3 separate regions of the Homo sapiens genome follow, and all the other regions are linked to region 2. The links come from fine-mapping of genetic effects on gene expression. A gene starts in region 2. Each other region holds a variant in brackets. All regions are shown on one strand. Distances are from middle to middle. Region 1 overlaps CYP4F22 (cytochrome P450 family 4 subfamily F member 22). Region 2 holds the start of CYP4F22 (cytochrome P450 family 4 subfamily F member 22). Region 3 overlaps CYP4F22 (cytochrome P450 family 4 subfamily F member 22).

Evidence for each region. PIP is the estimated chance that this variant, and not a neighbour inherited with it, causes the effect.
Region 1: its variant is fine-mapped to the expression of CYP4F22 in whole blood (TOPMed, PIP above 0.99).
Region 3: its variant is fine-mapped to the expression of CYP4F22 in whole blood (TOPMed, PIP above 0.99).

The regions. Positions count from the first base shown.
Region 1 is chr19:15,530,027-15,538,197 of GRCh38, forward strand. It overlaps CYP4F22 (cytochrome P450 family 4 subfamily F member 22), which reads left to right. Exons shown (of 14, transcript NM_173483.4): 5 at 7,335-7,388; 6 at 7,509-7,636; 7 at 7,846-7,967. Among named protein-coding and RNA genes, the nearest start is that of CYP4F22, 26 kb to the left of the region's middle. The variant G/A (reference allele first, on the strand shown) is at 3,415.
Region 2 is chr19:15,503,670-15,511,849 of GRCh38, forward strand. It overlaps CYP4F22 (cytochrome P450 family 4 subfamily F member 22), which reads left to right and starts at 4,856. Exons shown (of 14, transcript NM_173483.4): 1 at 4,856-4,914. RefSeq lists an enhancer at 4,500-5,000.
Region 3 is chr19:15,540,181-15,548,360 of GRCh38, forward strand. CYP4F22 (cytochrome P450 family 4 subfamily F member 22) reads left to right here. Exons shown (of 14, transcript NM_173483.4): 8 at 270-537; 9 at 3,791-3,857; 10 at 3,970-4,099; 11 at 7,928-8,061. Among named protein-coding and RNA genes, the nearest start is that of CYP4F22, 36 kb to the left of the region's middle. The variant C/T (reference allele first, on the strand shown) is at 3,058.

The DNA of each region.
Region 1 (8,171 bases), 26 kb after region 2:
AAGATGTGGCAATGACTAAGAGTTCCAGAAACTTCGAGGGAATGTCCATCCATCTGGCAGTCAGAGCCAGGCACGTTTGGATAGGCAGTTGTTCCTTATGGTTTTGTTAAGTAAGTGTTACTCAATCCCTGGCCGTGGCACGCCCATCATTTGGTTCTGACATTCCCATTATGGCCAGGACTCTTGGTGACTCAGCCTGCAGCCTGCTGTCATCACTTGGGCTGACTCTGACTGGCAGGGAGGGAGATGTGGAAGAATTCCTTCTTCCTCGTGCAGTCCACACCTATCCCAAGATGTGAGACTTCCAAGTCTGCTTGGCAAGCTCTTGCTCAGCCTTCAACACCCAGCTCCAATGGCCGCCTCCTCCAGGAATCTTTCCCTGGCTTCCCAGACAGACCTATTCTCAGTCCTAACCCTTTGGACCTGGGTATGTCTGTGTCCAGCTCTATCTTCCTCATGAGCGGGACTCTGGATCCTCAGTGTGGCCTTGTGTACCTGGTGTATTAGTCAGTTCTCACGCTGCTATGAAGGACTACCCTAGACTGGGTAATTTATAAAGGAAAGAGGTTTAATTGACTCACAGTTCCGCAGGGCTGGGGAGGCCTCAGAAAACTTACAATCATGGCGGAAGGGGAAGCAAACACGTCCTTCTTCACATGGCAGCAGGAAGGAGAAGTGCCAAGTAAAAGGGGGAAATTCGTTAAATCTCGTGAGAACTCATTCACTATCATGGGAACAGCAACATGGGGGTAACCGCCCCCATGATTCAATTACCCCCCACCGGATCCCTCGCATGACACATAGGGATTATCGGAATTATAATTCAAAATGAAATTTAGATGGGACACAGCCAAACCATATTACCTGGGCACCTCCAGAGGTATCGGGACATCTGAGAGAACTCACTCTCAAATGAACCAATGAGCTCCAGTAGGTCAGGCATGGTGGTTCACATCTGTAATCCCAACACTTTGGGAAGCTGAGGCAGGAGGGTTGCTTGAGGCCAGGAGTTTGAGACTAGCCTGGGCAACACAGCAAGACCCTGTCTCTCGAAAAAAATAAATAATTACCCAGTGGCAGTGATGTGCACCTGTAGTCTCGGCTACTTGGGTGGCTGAGATGGGAGGATCACTTGAGCTCAGGAGTTTAAGACCAGCCTGGGTAATCTAGCAAGACCCCATCTGTACAAAAGCATTTAAAAATATTAGCTGGGTGTTGTGGTGCATGCCTGCAGTCCCAGCTACTCAGGAGGCTGAGGTGAGAGGATTGCTTGAGCCCAGCAGATGGAGGCTGCAGTGAGCTATGATTGCACCACTGCTGTACTCCAGCCTGGGTGACAGAGCAAGGCTTAGTCTCTTAAAAAAAAAAAAAAAGTGGGAGATTCCAGGAATTTTAGGATCTCTGTCCCAGCTTTGCCTCTACAAACACGCATCTGGGGACCATCTCCAGGGCTGCCACCCAGGAGCTGTGAAAGAAGCTGCCATCTTCCCCTTCCACAGCTATTCCCTCTCAATGCCTTGTTGTCTCCCGTTATTACATTTGTGAAGGGATGACGATCCCTGTTGAACTAAGGGGAAAACCTAGACCTTGGGAGGGAGAATTGACTCTTCTGAGGGATGAATACCAACTTGTGGGAAGAGCCCTGGGCCAGGACTGAGGTGGGTTGGCTTCAAATTCTGGCCTTGGCACATGCTTGCTGTGAGACCCCAGCCATTTATCTAGCCTCTCTGGATCTCAGGTTTTGATCTGTAAAATGGGTGCAGTTGTGAAGCCTGAATAATATAATGTGGATAAGAGGCCACGTGCAGTGACTCATGCCTGCAGTCTCAGCACTTTGGGAGGCCACGGCAGGAGGATCACTTGAGCCCAGGAGTTCAAGACCAGCCTGGGCAACAGAGCAAGACTCTATCTTTACAAAAAATTTAAAAAATTAGCCAGGTGTGGTGGTGCGTGCCTATAGTCCCAGCTACTTAGGAGGCTGAGGTAGGAGGATTGCTTGAGTCCAAGAGGTTGAGGCTGCAGAGAGCTATGATTGTGCCATTGCATCCAGCATGGGCAACAGAGTGAGATTCTGTCTCTAAAAAAATTAAAAAAAAAATAATATGGATAGGCATTAGTAAGGGTTTCTCTTCTGCCTTTTTAATATATGTTTTTCTTTCTCTTTTCCTCCTTTCCTTTCTTCTTCCTCCCTCTTCTCCTCCTCCTTCTACTTCTCTCTCTACTCCTCTTTCCCCCTCCTCCCTTCTCTTCTTCTTTCTCTCCTCCTCCTTCTACTTCTTTCTTCTTCTCCTTCTCCTCCTTCTCCTTCTTCTCCTCCCCATCCCCCTCCTCCTCCTCCACCTTCTTCTTTTTCTTCCTCTTCTTTTTAGACAGAGTCTCACTCTGTCACCCAGGCTGGAGTGCAGTGGCATGATCTCAGCTCACTGCAACCTCTGCCTCCCGAGTTCAAGTGATTCTCCTGTCTCAGCCTCCCGAGTAGCTGAGACTACAAGTGTGCACCACCACACCTGGCTAATTTTTGTATTTTTTTTTTTCAGTAGAGACGGGGCTGCACCATATTGGCCAGGCTGGTCTTGAACTCCTGACCTTAAGTGATTCTCCTGCCTTGGCCTCTCAAAGTGCTGGGATTACAGGCGTGAGCTACAGCGCCTGGTCTCTCTTTTTTCTCCTTCCTCCTCCCTTCTCCTCCCCCTCAGAGCATCAGTTTCCTGAGCACCATCCTGCCTGGTTCTGAGACTCCAAACAGACCGAGGAGTAGTGCCCCAGCAGGGGCTGTCATGTAGTAGATGCTTAAGCCTCTTGCCCTCCCCTCATCCAGTGGAGGGAGGGGATATTCTGTGTACCCCATCAGAGAAGCCAGATAGGGAACTCCAGGATGGAAAAAAGGGTGGTGCTGTGAGTCAGCCTGGAGTGAGGCCTCTTGGCCCCAGGGTGCCCCCACCTGGAATTACACAGATCAGGCTCCAGTCACAGACACCACCCTGGATCAGGACCTCCTGGGGCCACACCTGGGAGTGGCTTGCTGTTCTGAGCTTGGAGCTGCACAGCCCTTGAGCCTGGAGGAGGGCCCAGCTCCTGTTGGAGCTTCAGTTTCCCCATCATCTTATGGGCCTTTGGACTAGGAAATTTTAATGAGAGAAAGTAGATAAACATGCTTTATAGAGAACATGATGATATATAGACATATAATTGTAGCTTGCTTTTATATCATCTTTTTAAAATGGAGGTGAAATTCATGTAACATATAATTAACCATTTACAAGTGAACAATCAGTGGTATTTAGTGTATTCACCATGTTGGGCAACCACCAGCATTTTCCAGTTTCAAAATTTTTAGTCACCTCATAAAAAAACTCTGTACCCATTGAGTAATCACTTCCCATTTCCCTCCTCCTCCCATCCGCTGGTAACCTC[G/A]AATCTGCTTTCTGTCTCTATGTATTTGCCTATTCTGGGTACATCATAGAAAGAGAACCACATAAAATGTGATCTTTTTGTGTCTGTTTTCTTTTACTCAGCATAATGTTTTTGAAGTTCATTCACGTTGTAGTAGGAATCAGTTTCATTCTTTTTTTTTTTTTTTTTTTTTTGAGACAGGGTCTTACCCTGTCACCCAGAGGCTGGAGTGCAGTGGTGTAGCCATAACTCATTACAGCCTTGAAATCCTGGGCTCGAGTGATTCTCCTCCTGCCTCAGCCTCCCGAGTAGCTGGAACTGCAGGCACGCACCACCATGCCCAGCTAATTTTTATTTTTATTTTTGTAGAGATGGGGTCTTGCTATGTTGTCCAGGTTGGTCATTAGGGCTGAATTCATTTCACTGTATGGATTTTTTTTTGTTTACCCATTCACCTTTTGGATGTTGTGAATCATGCTACTATGAACATATGTGTTCAAGTTTTGGGGTGGACATATGTTTTCATTTCTCTCTTGGGTAGATACCTAGGAGTAGAATTGCCAAGTCATATGGAATTCTGTACTTAACTTTTTAAGGAGCCACCTTGCTGTTTTCCACAGAGGGTGTGCATTAATTTTCTACTAACAGGAAACACAACTATTTATCTCACAAGTTCTTGATGCCAATAAATAATCATTTTAACCATAGTAATAAAAATAGCCAACAGTTGGTCAATTATTCATTTACCTACGCACGTATTTAATGAGCATCTACCATGTGCCAGGAACACAAGAGCTTGTTGAGTCTTATAGGGATGCCATGAGGCAAGATTGTTCTATTTTCTCCTTTGGCAGTGGTAACATGTCCAGGCTTACATATCTAGTTAGTGGCAGGGCTGGGATTTGAACTCAGACCTGGCTGGCCCAGAACCCAAGCTCTCAAACATAGTGATATGCAGCTTTCTGAGCATGAGTTTCTCCATGCTGGCACCATGTGGGGGTATTTCGTACACCGTCTCATCCATGGTAGGCATTACCATCTCTCCCTCTTTTTTTTTTTCTTTTTAAAAAACATTTTTGTAGAGACAGAGTCTTGCTGTGTTGCCCAGGCTGGTCTTGAACTTCTGGGCTCAAGTGATCCTCCTGCCTCTGCCTCCCAAAGTGCTAGGACTGCAGGTGTGAATCATTGCACCTGGCCTACCATCTCCTTTTTGCTGGAGGGGAAAACTGGTGAGGAGCGTGGACACAGACTTTCCTGGCATTGTGGTCAGAGTTGGAGTGGAAAAGGAACCTGAGGATGAGAGAACAATGGTTCAGCTGAGAAGGGGGTTTGGAGAAGGCTTCCTGGAGTAGGTGTCAGTGAAGCTGGGCCCCGAAGGATGCCTAGGAGCTTGCCAGAGAAGGAGTCCCAGATGGAAGGTCCTGCCAGTGCCTTGATGCAGATGTGTGAAAATTCCAGGGGAATTCAGGTGATTTAGGGTGGCTGGAGTGAAGGTGATATGTTGGGGGGAATAGGAAATGAGACTGACAGTTAAGCAGGAACTGGACAGCAAAGTGAATGAACTTGTACTTTATCCTGGGAGTGATAGGGAGCCACGGGAAGTATTTGAACAAGACAGCTATTGACCAGATCCTGGTGTCAGAAAGATCCCTGTGGAGCCTATCTTGGAGTCCAGAGTGCAGAGAGGAGAGGAGTGACTAGACTCCTGCTTTCCTCTTCAATGCTGCCTCCTCCAGGAAGCCTGCCCTGACTTCCAACAGCCCTTTTTCTGAGCCTTCCTTAGCACCTAGCACACTTTCTACCTTCTTGGTAATTGCATGGTGTGTCTCTGCTTCCCTTTCCTGCCCCACTCAGGAGCTCCTCCAGGGAGGGCATAGAGCTGAGCCATCTGTGGGTCCCCAGCATCACCCAGCTTGGGTTGGGCACAGAAAGGCAGCATAAGAGGTGTGATGAATGGGGGGATGAGTGGGCGGATGATTGTGTAGGCAATTGGCCAATTCCTAGGGATTGTGTCGGTGTAGGTGGCTGAGTCGCATTCAGGTAAAAGTGATATCACTCGAATTTCAGATACTTCCTTCCTGGGCCTCTGCCCATTCAGCCCCAAATCTGTTCAGTATATAGAAGGAGGATCCATCCATTCATCCATCCACTCATTCATTCATTCATCCATCCACCTTCCACCTATCCACTCATTCATCCATCCATCCACTCATCCATCCATCCACCATCCACCCATCCATCCATTCATCCATCCATCCATCCACCCACCCACCATCTATCCATCTGCTATTCATCCATCCACTTATTTATCCATCCATGTACTCATCTGTCCCTCTACTCATCCATCCACCCATTTATTCTTTCATTCATCCATCCTTGGATTGACTTATTTATTCATTTAATAAAAATTTATCTAGCACAACATATCAGTAATCAACACGAACCCTCCTGTTAAGGGGCTTGTAACTAAGTGGATACAATCCAGAGTGACTGCTGGGTCAGGGGTGGGGAGAAGCATTCAAGTTCTCATACAGGATGAGGGAAGAGTGTTTGGGGCAGAGAGAACAGCTGGTGGAAAGTCTCAGAGAAGAGAGAGCACGTGGTCTTTTTAAGGAGCTGAGAAAAGTTCTGTGGTGTGGCCGGGCATGGTGGCTTATGCCTGTAGTCCCAGCACTTTGGGAGGCTGAACTTGGAGGATCACTTGAGCTCAGGAGTTCAAGACCAGCCTGGGCAATATGGCGATACCCTGTCCATACACAAAATTAAAAAATTAGCCAGGCATGGTGGCGTATGCCTGTAGTCCCAGCTACTCGGGAGGCTGAGGTGGGAGGATCGCTTGAATCCAGGAATTGGAGGCAGCAGTGAGCTATGATCTCACCACACACCCCAGCCTGGGTGACAGAGTGAGACCCCATCTCAAAAAAACAAAAAACAAAAAGTTATGTGGTGTTAGTTCTGTGACGTCGAATAGGGGGTGGAAGACAGAGGTGTCTTGAGAGAGATTTGGACAAAGGCAAATGATTCAGGGCTTTGAAAATGGGCTGGTATGTGAGGGTGATGGGTGTGTGAGCAGGAAGGGGCGTGGTCAGATCTGATAGTCAGATGAGATTCTCCTGGGGCCATTCATGAGGGACACACTGGAGAGGGTGAGGCTGGAGGCTGGGAGCACAGGAGGTGTGATTCAGATGGCCTGAGCTGGCAGAAAATAAGGGGGTGGATTAGGGGAAGACTCAGGTGAAGAAGTCCATTCTGGATAGACAGCTCAACCTGGTCAAAGGTTCAGAGGTGATCCACAGCAGGCGATGAGAATAGGGTTATCTGGTGTATGTTGAAGGATGAGGTGGTGGGAGAGGCATACAGGGGCCAGATGGAATTGGGTTTCAATGCCAGGCTGAGCCTGAACTTTTTACAAGTGCAATGGGGAGCCATGGGAGGTGTCTGAGCAGGGGAGGCTCATGTTCAGATCAGTGTTTTATAAGGATTTTTTCTCGGGTAGGTGTGGAGGACGGACTGGGTGAATACAGTGGGAGGTTGGAGCCCAGTGAGGAGGACTAAGGAAGTCATAAGCAAAGGTCAAGGGTTGGAACTCTGTTTTGAGGCCAGGCACGATGGCTCGTGCTTGTAATCCCAGCACTTTGGGAGGCTGAGGTGGGTGGATCACTTGAGGTTAGGAGTTCGAGACCAGCCTGGCCAACATGGTGAAACTCTGTCTCTGCTAAAAATACAAACAAATTAGCCGGGCATGGTGGCGGACACCTGTAATCCCAGCTACTCAGGAGGCAGAGGCAGGAAAACTGCTTGAACCTGGGAGGCGGAGGTTGCAGTGAGTGGAGATCGCACCACTGCACTCCAGCCTGGATGACAGAGCAAGACTCCGTAAAAAAAAACAAAAAACCAAAAAACTCTGTTTTGAGTCACCATTTTCCCTTTGCCCTCCACAGCTGCCATCGCCCCCAAGGATGACCTCTTCTATGGCTTCCTAAAACCTTGGCTAGGTGAGTGCCCAGTGGGTAGGCTGGGGCTGGGGCTTTAGAGAAGAGAGGGAAGAGCATGGGGTTCCTTGGAAGGTTTCAGAGTAACAGGAGAGGTCCCTAACCTCAGTCTTCTGGGCCCAGGGGATGGGCTGCTGCTCAGCAAAGGTGACAAGTGGAGCCGGCACCGTCGCCTGCTGACACCCGCCTTCCACTTTGACATCCTGAAGCCTTACATGAAGATCTTCAACCAGAGCGCTGACATTATGCATGTGAGTCCTAAGGCTTTGAGGGAAGAGGGTGTCTTGGGAGTGAGGCTGGTCCAGGCTCCAACTCATGCATGGGCAAGCCATGTGATGTCAGGAGCCCTCACTGACTTTATCTATAAAATGAGCTTGTAGTGAAAACGCAGTCGGGTCCTTGTTAGGCTGACTCCCTCTCTGTGGTTTCCATGCACAGTCACCATGTATCTCTCTTCCAGGCTAAATGGCGGCATCTGGCAGAGGGCTCAGCGGTCTCCCTTGATATGTTTGAGCATATCAGCCTCATGACCCTGGACAGTCTTCAGAAATGTGTCTTCAGCTACAACAGCAACTGCCAAGAGTGAGTGTGACCCTTCTTGGGAAGATGGAGCCAGCTGCTCTAGGAGCAAGATGGTGGCAGGAGAAAGGGAACTCCCAGGCATTAGACAACTCTGGCCTATGGGAGCTCTGCCACGGATGGGCCATGTGCTTCCGGGAAACTGACCATCTCTCTGAGCTTCACTTTTTTTTTTAATCAAAAAAATGGGCATCATAATTCCTTCCC
Region 2 (8,180 bases):
TGAGGCACGAGAATTGTTTGAACCCAGGAGCCGGAGTTTGCAGTGAGTTGAGATCGCACCACTGCACTCCAGCCTGGGCAACAGGTGAGACTCTGTCTCAAAAAAAAAAAAAAAAAAAAAAAAAAATTGAGGTGAAATTCACATAACATAAAATTAACCCTTTAAAGTGTAGAATTCAGTGACATTTAGTGCATTCACAATGTTGTGCAACTATCACCTTTATCTAGTTCCAGTGTTTTTGTCACCCCAAAAGGAGGTCCTATAACCACTCCCCCTGGGTATGGGCTTCTCTCTCCATCCCCCCTCCCCCAGCCCCTGGCAACAACTACTCCACTTTCTGTCTCTGTGAATTCACTTAGTCTGAATATTTCATATAAATGTAATAATGCACTGTGTGACCTTTTGTGTCTGGTTTCTTTCACTCAGCACAATGTTTATGAGGCTCATCCACATTGCGGCATGGATCAGGGTTTTATTTATTTTTATTTGTATTTTTTTTTTCAGACGGAGTCTCACTCTGTCCCCCAGGCTGGAGTGCAGTGGTGCGATCTTGGCTCACTGCAATCTTTGCCTTCCGGGTTCAAGCGATTCTCCTGCCTCAGCCTCCCGAGTAGCTGGGATTACAGGTGCCCGCCACCGTGCCCAGATAATTTTTGTATTTTTAGTAGAGACAGGGTCTCACCATGTTGGCCAGGCTGGCTCAACCTCCTGACCTCAGGTGATCCACCTGCCTCGGCCTCCCAAAGTGCTGGGATTACAGGCAAGAGCCACCTCGCCCGGCCTTTATTCTTTTTTATGACTGAGTAATATTCCATTGTATGGATGGACCACAGTTTGTTTATCCATTCATCTGTTGGTGGAATTTGGGTTGTTTCCACCTTTGGCTATAATAAATCGTGCTATCCCGAGCACTCCTCTACAATTACGTGTGAGTAACTGTTTTCTTTTCTCTTTCTTTCTCTTTATCTCTCTCTCTCTCTCTCTCTCTCTCTCTCTCTCTCTGTCTCTTCTTTCTTTCTTTTTCTTTTTTTTTGAGACAGGGTCTCATTCTGTAGCCAGGCTGGCGTGAAGTGGTACAATCTCAGCTGACTGCAATCTCAGCCTCCCAGTCTCAAGCTGTCTATCCTCCCACCTCAGCCTCCCAAGTAGCTGGGACTATAGGTACGCACATCATGTCCAGCTAATTTTTTATATTTTGTAGAAATGAAGTCTTGCTATGTTGTTCCCCAGGCTAGTCTGGAACTCCTGGGCTTAAGTGATGCTCTCTTGCCTCAGCCTCCCAAAGTGCTGAGATGACAGCTGTAGACCACTGTACCTGGCAAGTACTTGTTTTCAGTTATTGTGTGTGTATACCTAGGAGTGGAATATCTGGGTCCTATGGTAATTCTGATTAGCTTTTTGAGAAATTCCCAAACTGTTTTCCACTGTGGCTGAACCATTTTACGTTGCCACCAGCAGGGTATGGCGAGATCCCTCTTCTTTTTATCTTTGACTCCCTGCCATGACCTGCCACATCCACTCCCAGACAGCTTTCTACTACCATTTCCCAAGTCCAGCCACAGCCTCCACTTCCTCCCCTCCCACTTCAACCTCACCCCACTGAGCCCTGGGCTGTGGCAGGCTGAGGGCTCTGGTGGCATGGGAACCACACAGCTCTAGAGCTTGGGTTCCTTGACGTCTAGGTGCCAGTGATGGTCCCTACTACCACTCTTCTCAAACTCCATCTCCAGCTCCAGCTCAGTGCTGCTGCCTGTCCTCTCTATAAATGTAGCTATTATCTCTGAGGTCAGGAGTTTGAGACCAGCCTGGCCAAAATGGCAAAACCCTGTCTCTACTAAAAATACAAAAATTAGCCGGGCGTGGTGGTGCAAGCCTGTAATCCCAGCTACTCAGGAGGCTGAGGCAGGAGAATTGCTTGAACCCGGGAGGTGGAGGTTGCAGTCAGCCAAGATAGCACCACTGCACTCTAGCCTGGGTGACAGAGCAAGACTCTGTTTGATTAAAAAATAAAATAAAAGGCCAGGCACGGCAGCTCATGCCTGTAATCCCAGCACTTTGGGAGGCCAAGGCAGGTGGATCACTTGAGGTCAGGAGTTTGAGACCAGCCTGGCCAATACGGCGAAACCCCGTCTCTACTAAAAATACAAAAATTAGCCGGGCTTGGTGGTGGGCACCTGTAGTCTCAGCTACTCGGGAGGCTGAGGCAGGAGAATCGCTTGACCCCGGGAGGCGGAGGTTACAGTGAGCCAAGATTGTGCCACTGTATCCAGCCTGGACAACAGAGCAACAGAGTGAGACTCCATCTTAAAAAAAAAAAAAAAGTGGCTGTGATCCCCACTTCTGCCCTCCCCTCCTCTTCTCTGCCCACCTCCCTCCTGAGTGATCTCGCTGACCTACTGCCATGCCATCCACCGTCTTCCCAAGGCAGGTGACTCACAGATGCAATTCTCAGGAGGTGCCCTCACGCTGAGCCCAACTGCCTCCTGGATGTCTCCCTGAATGTCATCCCATGAGACCCACGAGACTTTTAGACTGAAGGTGACCCACGGTTTCCCAATCTTAGCACTGTCAACATTTGAGCCTGGATTATTCTTTGGGGGTGGGGGTGTTCTGGATGTTGAATAATATCTCTGGCCTTCACCCACTAGATGTCAGTTGCACCACCCTGAATTCCCCCACCCCCACCTCTACCCCCCACCCAGCAGTATGATCTCCTGATGTTGCTAAACATTCCCTGGCGGAAAACTCTACTCTGCTGGGATGGCCCCAATCAACTGCAAACTCAAACAGCTGATGTTTGTCCAGCCTGTGCCCTGTGCCAGGAGTGGGGCTGAACACCACCTCATCACATGGGCTTCTTCTGCATTTTATGCATAGGGAGATGGAGGCTCAGAGCAGCCATGTGACTAGCTCAAGGCCACACATCCACGAAGCCCACTCTTAGTGCTCCAGGCCCTTTCACTTACTCCTCCTTCCTGGTCTCCAGCTCTTTGAGAGCAGAGAAGCCAGGCAGATGGCTTCTTTTCCTTCTCTCTTCCCTAGAACCCCGTATTTAGCCAGTGGTCAGTGGAGATGACCTCCGGGACCTCATCCTTAACCCCTTCCTGGGTCTCAGCTACCCCCACCCTTTGTCTCTGTCCCCTGCAGCCACTGGAGGGGTCCCTCTCAAACTTCACTCTATGTGGATCTCTGCATTTTCCAAAGTGCTTCTAGTAAGCTCCCCCTTGGCCAGAATTACTGGCAAAACAAAATTCATATCCCTAAAAAATAGGCTTTCATGCTGCGTTAATTATGAATAAAAAATTAATAAAATAAGCTCTTCCTCAGAAGTAAAAAAGATTAAAGACACAAATAAATATAAATATTTTTTTTTAAAAGTTCTAGGAGCTGGGAGAATGGCTTGAGCCCAGGAGTTTGAGACCAGCCTGGGCAACATAGTGAGACCCTGTCTCTAAAAAAATGAAAAAAAAAAATTAGCTGGGTGTGGTGGCACGTGTCTGTAGTCCCAACTACCCAGGAGGCTGAGGCAGGAGGATGGCTTGAGCCCAGGAGTCACCCCAGCCTGGATGACAGAGTGAGACCAATCAACTAACAGGGGGCACCTCCCCTACTCAAGCACCATCCATGGCTCCCCACTGCCCACCAGATCAAGATCCAGCCATTCAAACTGGCCTTCACAGTCAACTCCTGCATCCCTCCAGCCTCCACACCTCTCACACTCCAAGGCCAGGGAAAGCCATCTGCTAAGTCACACCCTCCAGTTTCTCTGTGCTTGAGCTCTACCCCCTCTCCTGCACTTGTTGAAATCCAACCTCTCCATGCAGTCCCAGCTCAAGTGTCACATCCTCCACGTCGCCTTCCCTGACCTCATGTCTGCCTCCTCCAAGCAGCAAAACTTCAATTACTTGTGTCTCCTCTTCTTCACCAGGAGACATGCCCCACACCTCCCACGCCCTCTTTCCAAGGGCCCAGCACCAAATGAGAGCGTATTCTTAGAAAAAAGAGGGATAAGGAAGTCTTCTAAGTTTACCACCTGCTGGGGCAAGTGGAGATTCTTGTCTTCTCATCTGTCTGCCCACGTGCTAAGGTCAGCCACACATCCACCCACCGACTCCGGAGGACAGACACATCCAGAGGCGGAGCTGACTCTGTCTCCACACATCTGGAGTAGACGGGTTGGCCAAGGACAACATCCTGGTCAGAGGGTCAAGGTGTCTGGCAGTGGGTGGGGAGGAGTGGCGGAGGGCGGGTTGGCGGGGAGCAGAACCAGTCTGGTGCTGCTTGTTGAGGTTGGAGGTCTTCCTGGAGGAAGAGGCTGCAGAGCCTCCAGGGGTGGGTGCCGGGGAAGCTTAGGCCCAGGATCCAGAGAGAGGGGAAGGGCTGGTTCCCAAGGGCTGGTGGAGCCAGAGAATTCCTGAGGGCCCCAGAGGAGGCTTCTCGGGGGGGTCAGTGGGGCCCCAGGGGGTGATGGTTTAGAGATCGCTGTCCAAGCTTGGGAGCAAACCTGGAAGTAAGGGCCATGGGGGGTGTTGGTGTGGGAGGAGTGTGGTCCAGAGCGGGACTTGGGCGCTAATGCGGCCCAGCAGTGGCAGGAGGGCGGGGAGCCTGATGGTTTGGGACTTCTAGGTGTCCAAGTCTCTGTCTCTCTTCATCTCTCCATCTCAGTCTCAGTCTCTCTCTCTTTCCATCGCTCTCCACCCCTCCACACGCCTATTTCTTGTTCTCTCCTTTTCTAGGGGGCAGCGCTGGAGTCCCCGCCCAGAACCCTGCGGGAGCCCGGGGCGGGATGTCCGGGGGCGGACCCCTCGGCACGGCCGGGCGGGGTTAAAGGGTTGGGCCGTGGGACGGCGCGGTCAGATCCCAGGTAGTGGCGCCGGTGGATCCGGATCGAGGGCAGGAGGCTGAGACCCGCGGGTGAGTGCGCGCGTGGTGAGGGCTGTAACCTGAGCGCGGCCGCGGCGCTGCGCTGGAACCCGAGGCTCGCGCGGTTCGGTGCTGGCGGGGCAAGGGCGAAGGTCTGCGCGCGGCGGCGGGCGGGGCGCAGCCGGCCACGGGGACCCCCCCAGGACCCAGGACGGGGCTGCATGCCCGGGGCACTCGTGGGGAGAGGGGCACGTGGGTGTGTCCCCGACGTTTGCTGCATTTGTGAGTTGTTTTCTTTTTTTTTTTTTCTGTGTGCGCCTCGGAGTCCTAGGCGCATCCTTTTCTCTGGGTATCTGTGATGGGCAGGGGGCCTCCAAAAGACCCCTCTGGTAGTCAGGACATCCCAGATGGGTTCAAGCCCCGCCCTGGGACGCCTCTTTGGGGCTGAATGGGGATTCGCCCTGAGATTTCACCACTGCACGTTGTCTTGACGGGGAGGTTGTAGTACATTCAACCGATGGGGTTAGGCTTGTGGTTCAACTGCTATCAGGAACCCTCTGCCCATCCATGCCAGACGCAGAGCCCCTCTATGAAAAGACGGTGTTCTTCTGGCCCCGAGAGTTGGCTCTGAGGGTTGTGTGAGGTCCTGGGGTTGGTCCCAGGTGATCTTCGTCTGATAGATGCTGGAAGGAAGATGTTTTCTGGCCTCCCAGGGGCCTGGCCCAGCCTGGGTATGCAAGTTGGCCGAGGCTGGCCACCTGGGGAGTCGCAGGCTGGAGAGGCCTAGGCTCAGGGCATCTCTCCTGGTTCATCTGCCCGCTCACAGCTCATTCATGCACTCATTGTGAGTCTCACCGCCCTGTAGGCAAAGGAGATGGCCAGGGCTGGCTGCGTACCCGAAATTCCTCCTACCCTGTGCCCCTTGCTCCACCCCTTATTTCTAGGTCCTGGAGCTGTGCCCAGCCAGGGCTGGCAGCATCAAACTCCTTCTTGTGTAACTCCAAACCCCAAAGAGAAGGAACCTCCCCAAATCTTCCCTACCACCCTCATTTTACAGGCACGGAAACTGAGGGCCAGAGAGAAGAAGCCTGTGCCTGTGGATACCCAGTGCCCAGTGGGAGAGCTGGGATTTGAAAAAACAAGCCCTGTTTGACCCCAAAGCCTCAGTCCACTTTCCGATGTCCCCGGCATCACCAAATGGCCCAGCTTGGGTTTCTGAACAGTAACATTAACTCTGGCCTGGTGTCTGGCGGTGACCCAGGTTGGTATCTGCAGAGGGGCTTGGATGACTTGAGAGGCATTCAGGGAATGGGACCCATCTCTCCTTCCTTCCTTCCTTCCTTCCTTCCTTCCTTCCTTCCTTCCTTCCTTCCTTTCTTTCTTTCCTTCCTTCTTTCTTTCTTTCTTTCTTTCTTTTCTCTGTCTCTCTCTCTTTCTTTCTTTCTTTCTTTTTTTGTTGTTGTTGTTGAGACAGGGTCTCACTTTGTCACCCAGGCAGGAGTGCAGTGGCATAATCATAGCTCACTGCAGCCTCGATCTCCTGGGTTCAAGCAATCCTCCTACCTCAGCCTCCTGAGTATGGAGGACTACAGGCATGCACCACCACTCCTGTCTACTTTTTGTATTTTTGGTAGGGATGGGGTTTCACCATGTTGCCCAGGCTGGTCTTGAACTCTTGGGCTCAAGTGATCCACCCGCCTCAGCCTCCCAAAGTGCTGGGATTACAGGCATGAGCCACTGCGCCTGACTCATCTCTCCTTGTTGATAAAACTTGGACCTGATTCTCCAAACCCCAGATGGCCAGGTCACAATAATGAACGTGATGGCAGCACCAACGGTAATGAGAGATATCATTGATCAAAGGCTTACTATGTGCCTGGAAGATTGCAGCCCCATGAGGTGGGTAAATAGGGCTTCTGTCTTAATGGATGAAGAAATTGAGGCTCAGAGAGGTGCAGACACTCACCCGAGGTCGCACAGCAAAGAGGCAGACCTTTATAGAATCTTTTCTGAGGCTCATGTCCAGGTGTGGCCACACTTGGGATGGTGGGCAGAAACAATTACAACCCTGCAATGGTCTAGATTATTAGTGGTTTTAAAACTTCTTTTTCTGCCAGGATCCCCTTTGGGCCAAGGAAATTATTAGCAAAAGGTTTGAATATGATCAAAGCTGCGATAGGACTGTCTCCTTTACCACATTTGCCAACTTGGCCCTGCCCTCATTAGTCATAAATGACTCTGAAGCTCTTTCTCAGAACCTTAGAAATTTAGAGTGCTGAGTGGAGACTGAAGACCTAGAAGCCAGGCTGAGTGTGGTGGCTCATGCCTGTAATCCCAGCACTTTGGGAGGCTAAGGCTGGAGGATGGTTTGAGCCCAGGACTTTGAGACCAGCCTGGGGAATATAGGGATACCATATATATATATATATATATATTTTTTTTTTTTTTTTTGAGATGGAGTTTTGCTCTTGTTGCCCAGGCTGGAGTGTAATGGCGTGATCTTGGCTCACTGCAACCCCTGCCTCCCGGGTTCAAGCTGTTCTCTTGCCTCAGCCTCCTGAGTAGCTGAGACTACAGGCATGTGCCACCATGCCTGGCTAATTTTGTATTTTTAGTAGAGATGGGGTTTCTCCATGTTGGTCAGGCTGGTCTCGAACTCCCGACCTCAGGTGATCCTCCCTCCTCCCAAAGTGCTGAGATTACAGGCATGATTACAGGCATGAGCCACCGCGCCCAGCACTATATTAATTTTTTTTAACAAAAAAATTAAAAAAAAATTAGCTGAGCATGGTGGCAGGCGCCTGTAGTCCCAGCTACTCAGGATGCTGAGGTGGGAGGATCACTCAAGCCCAGGACGGGGAGGTTGCAGTGAGCCAAGATCACACCACTGCACTCCAGCCTGAAGGACACAGCAAGACCATGTCTAAAAAACAAAACAAACAAACAACAACAACAACAAAACAACTTAGAAGTCCCCTCTCAGCTCCAGCCTTCTGGGGTCTGGCACTTTGGGGGAATATGTGAGTCTCTGGGGTAAGCCAGCCCTCTGATGTTGAGGAAGCCAAGGTGGCACCATGAATCAGTGGGGACGGGGGCAGGCTGCCTTGACTACAGGCTTGGAGTGAAAAGGAGGGCTGGGATTTGGGGTGATGGGGCCAGCGTTGGGGTGCTCTTCCATCAGGCTCCTGGCTGGTCCCAGCCCCTGCAGTTCAAGAAGAGGCATGTATCTCGTACCTGGCGTCGGCCTGGGTCCGTGCCCTCCACTCCTTCTTGGGAGCCCACACACCTTGTATAACAAGTCCTCAGTGGGTGAACGG
Region 3 (8,180 bases), 37 kb after region 2:
CCAGCACTTTGGGAGGCCAAGGCTGGAGGATCACTTGAGCTCACGAGTTCAAGGCTGCAGTGAGCTATGATTGTGCCACTGTACTGCAGCCTAGGTGACAGAGCAAGACCCTATCTAAAAAAATAAATAAATGAATTTAAAAATAGAGTTAATATAGGGCTTCTCTTTGTTATCTATTCAATGGGGACAGGAGGCTTATCTTAGCCAAGCCAGGGCTGTGCTATGCTAGGGGAAGGGGCTACACTCATGGATCCCCTTCTCCTTGGCAGGAAGATGAGTGATTATATCTCCGCTATCATTGAACTGAGCGCTCTGTCTGTCCGGCGCCAGTATCGCTTGCACCACTACCTCGACTTCATTTACTACCGCTCGGCGGATGGGCGGAGGTTCCGGCAGGCCTGTGACATGGTGCACCACTTCACCACTGAAGTCATCCAGGAACGGCGGCGGGCACTGCGTCAGCAGGGGGCCGAGGCCTGGCTTAAGGCCAAGCAGGGGAAGACCTTGGACTTTATTGATGTGCTGCTCCTGGCCAGGGTGAGGCTGGGCCCCCTGGAATTGCTGGCCTCCCGAGGGCTGGCCTCCCGAGGAATTGCATGTAAAATGATAAGTGTTAAAACTCCATTAGGCGTGGTGGCTCACACGTGTAATCCCAGCGCTTTGGGAGGCCAAGGCGGGAGGATCGCTTGAGCCCTGGAATTGGAGATCAGCCTGGGCAACACAGGGAGACCCTGTCTCTACAAAAAACAAATAAGTTGGGTGTGGTGCCGCATGCCTATGGTCCCAGCTACTTGGGAGGCTGAAGCAGGAGTCTGGCTTGAGCCCAGGAGTTGGAAGCTGCAGTGAGCTATGATGGTGCCACTGCACTCCAGCCTGGGCAACAGAAGCGAGACTCTGTCTCAAAACAAAACAAAACAATACACATGCTCAAAACAAAAAGAAATTCACATGGGTCTGGGATGGGGTCAGAACATGTAAGACTTACTGCGTGAGTTTTCTTGGGCTGCTATTACAAAGTACCACAAACTAAATGGCCTAAACATCAGCCATTTATTCTCTCACAGTTCTGGAAGCTAGAAGTCCAAGATCAAGGTATCTGCAGGGCTGGTTTCTTCTAAGGCCCATGAAGGATGAATCTGTTCCAGGCCTTGCTCCCTGGCTTGCAGAAGGCTGTCTTCTCCCTATGTCTGCGGATCATCTTCCCTCTGTGCCTGTCTCTGTCTTCGTCTCTTTGTATAAGGATTAGGGCCCTGCCCTAATGAGTTCATTTTGTCTTGATTACTTCTGCAAAGACCTCTCTCCAAACACGGTCATAGCCTGAGGTACTGGAAGTTAGGACTTATGAATTCTAGCGGAGGGGGGGTGGGCAGGGAACCATTCAGCTCATCACAATTGCAAAAATGAAATACATGACCTTGGGCTGGGCGTGGTGGCTCATACCTGTAATCCCAGCACTCTGGGAGGCCAAGGCAGGTGGATCACTTGAGGTCAGGAATTCGAGACCAGCCTGACCAACATGGAGAAACCCCATCTCTACTAAAAATACAAAATTAGCCGGGCGTGGTGGCACACACCTGTAATCCCAGCTACTCGGGAGGTTGAGGCAAAAGAATCACTTGAACCTGGGAGGCGGAGGTTGCGGTGAGCTGAGATCATGCCATTGCACTCAAGTGAAACTCCGTCTCAAAAAAAAAAAAAAAAAAGAAAAAAAAGAAATACATGACCTTGAAGAGATGAGACACTTCTATGGTCACTCATTGGTGTGTCTGTGGACCTTTTGGGTTCTGGATTCAAATAGTCCTGGATTCCAGTCCTGGCTCTGTCGCTTAGTGGATGTTTGACCTTAGTCATTGACTCTTCTTCCCAAGCCTCAGTTTCTCCATTTATACCATGGTGATCATAAAACCTGATCACAAGGTTGTCAGGCATCCAGTGGGATGCTTGGTGTTGGAGGCTGCTCAAGAAATATGAACTTCCTTCTTCTCCTCACTGTTGACTTTCTGTCCCTCTTTACATCTTTCTTTTCTTTTTTCTTGTTTTTTAAAAATGTAATTTAAAGTTCCAGGATAAGCCGGGCGCAGTGGCTCACCCCTGTAATCCCAGCACTTTGGGAAGCTGAGGTGGGAGGATCACCTGAGGTCAGGAGTTCAAGACGAGCCTGGCCAACATATTGAAACACCGTCTCTACTAAAAATAAAAAAAAAATATTAGCCGGGCGTGGTGGCATGCATCTGTAATCCCAGCTCCTCTGGAGGCTGAGGCAGGAGAATCGCTTGAACCCTGGAGGCAGAGGTTGTAGTGAGCCAAGATTGCGCCACTGCACTCCAATCTGGCAACAAGAGAGAAACTCCATCTCAAAAAATTTTTTTTTAAATTAAATGGAAAGTTCAAGGATACGTGTGTAGGGCGTGCAGGTTTGTTACGTAGGTAAACATGTGCCATGGTGGTTTACTGCACCTATCAACTCATCACCTAGGTATTAAGCCCTGCATGCATTTGCTATTTATCCTGATATTCTCCCTCCTCCTGCCACCCTGATAGGCCCCCCAAGTGTGTGTTGTTTCCCCCCTGTGTCCGTGTGTTTTCATTGTTCAGCTCCCACTTATAAGTGGGAACATGTGGTGTTTGGTTTTCTGTTCCTGCCTTAGGTTGCTAAGGATGATGGCTTCCAGCTCCATTCAGGTCCCTGCAAAGGACATAATCTTGTTCCTTTTTATGGCTGCATAATATTGCATGGTATATATGTACCACATTTTCTTTATCCAGTCTTTCATTGATGGGCATTTGGGTTGATTCCATGTCTTTGTTATTGTCAATAGTGCTGCAATGAACATATGTGTGCGTGTATCTTTATAATAGAATAATTTATATTCCTTTGGTTGTATACCCGGTAATGGGATTGCTGGGTCAAGTGGTATTTCTGGTTCTAGGTCTTTGAGGAATTGCCACATTGTCTTCCACAATGGTTGAACTAATTTACGTTCCCATCAACCTTGTAAAAGCGTTCCTATTTCTCCACAGCCTCACCAGCATCTCTCACTCAGGGTCTTGCTCTGT[C/T]ACACAGGCTGGGGTGCAGTGATGCGGTCATGGTTCACTGCAGCCTTGATCTCCTGGGCTTAATCCTCCTGCCTCAGCTTCACCAGTAGCTGGGACTACAGGCATGCATCACCACACCTGGCTGATTTTTTTTTTGTAGAAATGGGGTCTTACCATGTTGCCCAGGCTGGTCTTGAACGCCTAGGCTCAAGTGATCCTCCCACCTTAGCTGCCCAAAGTGTTGGGATTATAGGTGTGAGCCACCATGCTGGGCACTTTCCATCTTTATTAGACAAGTTGCATACTTCCATCTTCCTGGACTAGTTCCCCCCACAGCTTGGCTTAAGAGAGAGAGGGGAGCCAGGCGTGGTAGCTCATGTCTGTAATCCCAGCACTTTGGGAGGATGAGGCAGGTAGATCACTTGAGGCCACGAGTTCGAGACCGGCCTGGCCAATATGGCAAAATTGCATCTCTACTAAAAATACAAAAATTAGCTTGGAGTGGTGGCATGTGCCTGTAATCCCAGCTATTCAGGAGGCTGAGGCACGAGAATCACTTGAACCTGACAGTCGGAGGCTGCAGTTAGCCGAGATTGTGCCACCGCACTCCAGCCTGGGTGATAGAGCGAGACTCCATCTCAGAAAAAAAAAAAAAAAAAAAGATGGGGGCGGGGAGATATCTGAGTTTTGAGGAGCCCCTAGGATGCGGAGGGTGGGATGAAGTGGGCTGAGCACCCTCTACTGCCCATTCCAGGATGAAGATGGAAAGGAACTGTCAGACGAGGATATCCGAGCCGAAGCAGACACCTTCATGTTTGAGGGTGAGGATGTGGGGTGAGGCTGGAGGAGGGCAGGAAGGGACATCATTGTCTGTAGACAGCATCTCTGCTTTCTTCAGGCAGCCTCCATTCAGATACCCTCATCTCCCTGCAGGTCACGACACAACATCCAGTGGGATCTCTTGGATGCTGTTCAATTTGGCAAAGTATCCGGAATACCAGGAGAAATGCCGAGAAGAGATTCAGGAAGTCATGAAAGGCCGGGAGCTGGAGGAGCTGGAGTGGTGAGTGTGGGGTCAGGGGAATGGAGGGGGCAGGTTGAGGCCAGAGCCTTGGGTGTAAGCCTCTGCTCTCCCACTTACTGATTGTGTGACCTCAGACAAGCCACTTTAGCTTCCTGAATTGCAATTTCTTCAGCTACAAAATGGGGGTGGTTATAGTGCCTATGCCCACCTCATAATGCAGAAGTTCTCAAAGTGTCCTAGTCAGCAATTATTGCAATGATGCTGCATAATGAACAGCTCCCAAACTTAGTGGTTTACAGCAAGCATTTGTTTCTTGCTTTTGTATGCACACATTTCTTGCTCTTGTCTGCTCATTACTCTAATTGCTGTTGGACTTGGCTGAGTGGAGTGGAGTTGCTTCAAAACTAAGAGCTGGGTTCAGATCTGCTTCATATACTCCCTTTCTGTTCTCTTTGGACCAGAGGCTACCCTGGGTCGTATTCTTCTCAAGGCAGATTCCAGAAGCACAAAAAGCCATGAAATTTAAAAGCTTTGCTTGGGCCGGGTGGGGTGGCTCACGCCTGTAATCCCAGCATTTTGGGAGGCCGAGGTGGGTGGATCACCTGAGATCAGGAGTTCGAGATCAACCTGGCCAACATGGTGAAACCCCATCTCTACTAAAAATACAAAAATTAGCCAGGTACGGTCATGGGTGCCTGTAATCCCCCCTACTCGGGAGGCTGAGACAGGAGAATCACTTGAACCTGGGAGGTGGAGTTTGCAGTGAGCTGAGATTGCACCACTGCACTCCAGCCTGGGCTACAAGAGTGAAACTCTGTCCCCACCCCCCCACAAAAAAAGATAAAATAAGTAAATAAATAAAATAAAAAAAAAAAACAAAAGCTGTGCTTGCACTAGAAGATTGCATTGGCTAAAACAAGTCACGTGACCAAGCCCAGCATGAATGGGGCAGGACATATACTCCACTCACCTGAGCAGAAGGCACTGAAGAATCATATGACAAAGGGTACAGGTATATAATTCTAATTCAGGGAGGAAGTGGAGAATCAGAACACATACCCAGTCTCTACCAGATTCATGCTATGTAGAGCTGATTCTGGGTGATGAAAAGAAAACACAGCATTAGGCTGGGCGTGGTGGCTCATGCCTGTAATTCCAGCACTTTGGGAGGCCGAGGGGGGTGGATTGCTTGAGCTGAGGTGTTTGAGACCAGCCTGGGCAACATGACGAAACCCTGTCTCTACAAAAAAATACAAAAATTAGCTGGGTGGGGTGGCGCATGCCTATAGTCCCAGCTACTTGGGAGGCTGAGGTGGGAGGACTGCTTGAACCCAGGAGGTGGAGGCTGTGGTGAGTCAAGATTACGCCACTGCACTCCAGCCTGGGTGACAGAGTGAGACCCTGTCTCAAAAAAAAAAAAAAAAAAAAAAAGAAAAGAAAAGAAAAGAAAAGAAGAAAAACACAGCCGCAACATTAAATAGCATCAACTCACACAGTGAGGAGGTTCCTTTCGGTTCTATTTCAACCTTTTGCCTTATGGCCTCAGGGGGACATGCTCAGTGGGGTGCTACTGTGTCCTGAACACTTTGCTAATCTTCCTTTTAAACAAGTGGAGAAGATGTCTCAGGTTGAGAGAGTTGGGTGGGAGTTGGTGTGTAGACACAATTTAATAACACACTACTGCTTTCACAGTGGTGTTTGTATGGATGAATACCTTTATGCCAGGGATGCTGTTTGCCCTTTATAGCAACATGAAGTTTATTTTTTTTTAAGACACAGGCTGGAGTGCAGTGGCATAATCATAGCTCACTGCAGCCTCAAACTCCTGGGCTCAGGCAATCTTCCTGCCTCAGCCTCCTGAGTAGGTGGGACTATAGGAGTGTGCCACCACAACTGGCTAATTTTTAACATTTTTTTAAGAGATGGGGACTTGCTGTGTTGCCCAGGCTGCTCTCAAATCCCTGAGTGCAAGCAGTCCTCTTACTTTGGCCTCCCAAAGTGCTGGGATTATAGGTGTGAGCCACTGTGCCCAGCCATAAAGTTTCTTTGAAAGAGAACCTGGGCCAGGTGCAGTGGCTCATGCCTGTAATCCCAGCACTTTGGGAGGCTAAGGCGGGTGGATCACTTGAGGCCAGAAATTCAAGACCAACCTGGGCAACATGGTGAAACCCTGTCTCTACTAAAAATACAAAAATTAGCTGGGCGTATTGGTGTGTGCCTGTAATCCCAGCTGCTTGAGAAGCTGAGGCGTGAGAATTGCTTGAACCTGGGAAGCAGAGGTTGCAGTGAGCTGAGATTGTGCCACTGCACTCCTGCCTGGATGAAACAGCAAGACGCCATCAAAAAAGAAAGAGAACCTGCTAATTTAAAGAAACTAATCTAATCTAGAACATGAACCAAGAGTTATCATTAGCCCAATTTTGGGCCCTAAAGTCCAAGGGAAAAAATATTAAGTAAATGATATTATAAGGAGATAATGCACTTTTCTTTTCTTTCTTTTTTCTTTTTTTCTTTCTTTCTTTTTTTGAGATAGGCTCTCACACTGTGGCCCAGGCTGGAGTACAGTGGCATGATCATAGCTCACTACAGCCTCCTGAGTAGCTGGGACCACAGGTGTGTGCCATCATGCCCAGCTAATTTTTTAACTTTTGGTAGAGATGGGGTCTCTCTTTGTTGCCCAGGCTGGTCACGAACTCCTGGGCTCAAGTTATCCACTTGCTTCGGCCTCCCAAAGTGCTGGGATTACAGGTATGAGCCACCATGCCTGGCCTGCACCAGTTTTTTTTTTTTTTTTTTTTTTAAGACAAGAGTCTCACTCTGTCACCCAGGCTAGAGTGTAGTGGTGCAATCTCATCTCACTGCAACCTCCGCCTTCCGGGTTCAAGCAATTCTCTTGCCTCGGCCTCCCAAGTAGCTGAGACTACAGGTGCACGCCACCACACCCAGCTAATTTTTGTGTTTTTTAGTAAAGATGGGGTTTTGCTATGTTGGCCAGACTGATCTTGAACTCCTGACCTCAGACGATCGCCCATCTCAGCCTCTGCAAGTGCTGGGATTACAGGCGAGAGCCACCACACCTGTCCTGCAGCAGTTTTTTAAGTACAGAAATGGACCATATAAACTGGCATATTGCTGTTGCCGTGAGTCCCCTTGGCTGTCCTGGCACCTCGCCTAGGTGCCCCTGGACCTCCACATAATTCATCAATTAAAGGCTTAATGCTGGGCCCAGCAGAGGGCCCAGTGCTAGTGCTGTTCTGAGCGGTTGGTGCTCAGATACTTTGCATCCTAAGTATTAGTACTGGCCGGGCACTGTGGCTCACGTTTGTAATCCCAGCACTTTGGGAGGCCGAGGTGGGTGGATTGCCTGAGGTCAGGCGTTTGAGACCAGCCTGGCCAACATGGAGAAACCCTGTCTCTACTAAAAATACAAAAATTAGCCGGGTGTGGGTGCGCATGCCTGTAATCCCAGCTACTTGGGAGGCTGAGGCAAGAAAATTGCTTGAACCTGCAAGGCTGAGGTTGCAGTGACCCGAGATGCGCCACTATGTTCTAGCCTGGGCAACAAGAGCGAAACTCGGTCTTAAAAAAAAAAAAGAAAGAAAAAGGAAAAGAAAAAACAAAAAAACCACTAAATATTAGTACTTCCCACCTGTGCATGAGACAACTGCAAATGGCAGAAATTGGGGCAAGTCTAAAATCCTGGACTGGTTTCTTGCCCAGCTGCCCCTGAGAGAGAGAGAGAGAGAGAGAGAGAGGGAGAGAGTGTGTGTGTGTGTGTGTGTGTGTGTGTGTGTGTGTGTGTGTGTGTGTTTTGGGGAGGTGGTGCCATGGTGGCTCGGCCTCTAGTTATATCTCCATTCTCCCCAGGGACGATCTGACTCAGCTGCCCTTTACAACTATGTGCATTAAGGAGAGCCTGCGCCAGTACCCACCTGTCACTCTTGTCTCTCGCCAATGCACGGAGGACATCAAGCTCCCAGATGGGCGCATCATCCCCAAAGGTGCCTACCATGTTCCGCCTGCTGCTGGTGCACTGCCTCCAATGATGTAGCTGCTCTATTGTCCACAGGGGCCTGGCTATGCCTGCCCCAGGTGCACTATCCCTGCAGATGGGATAGCT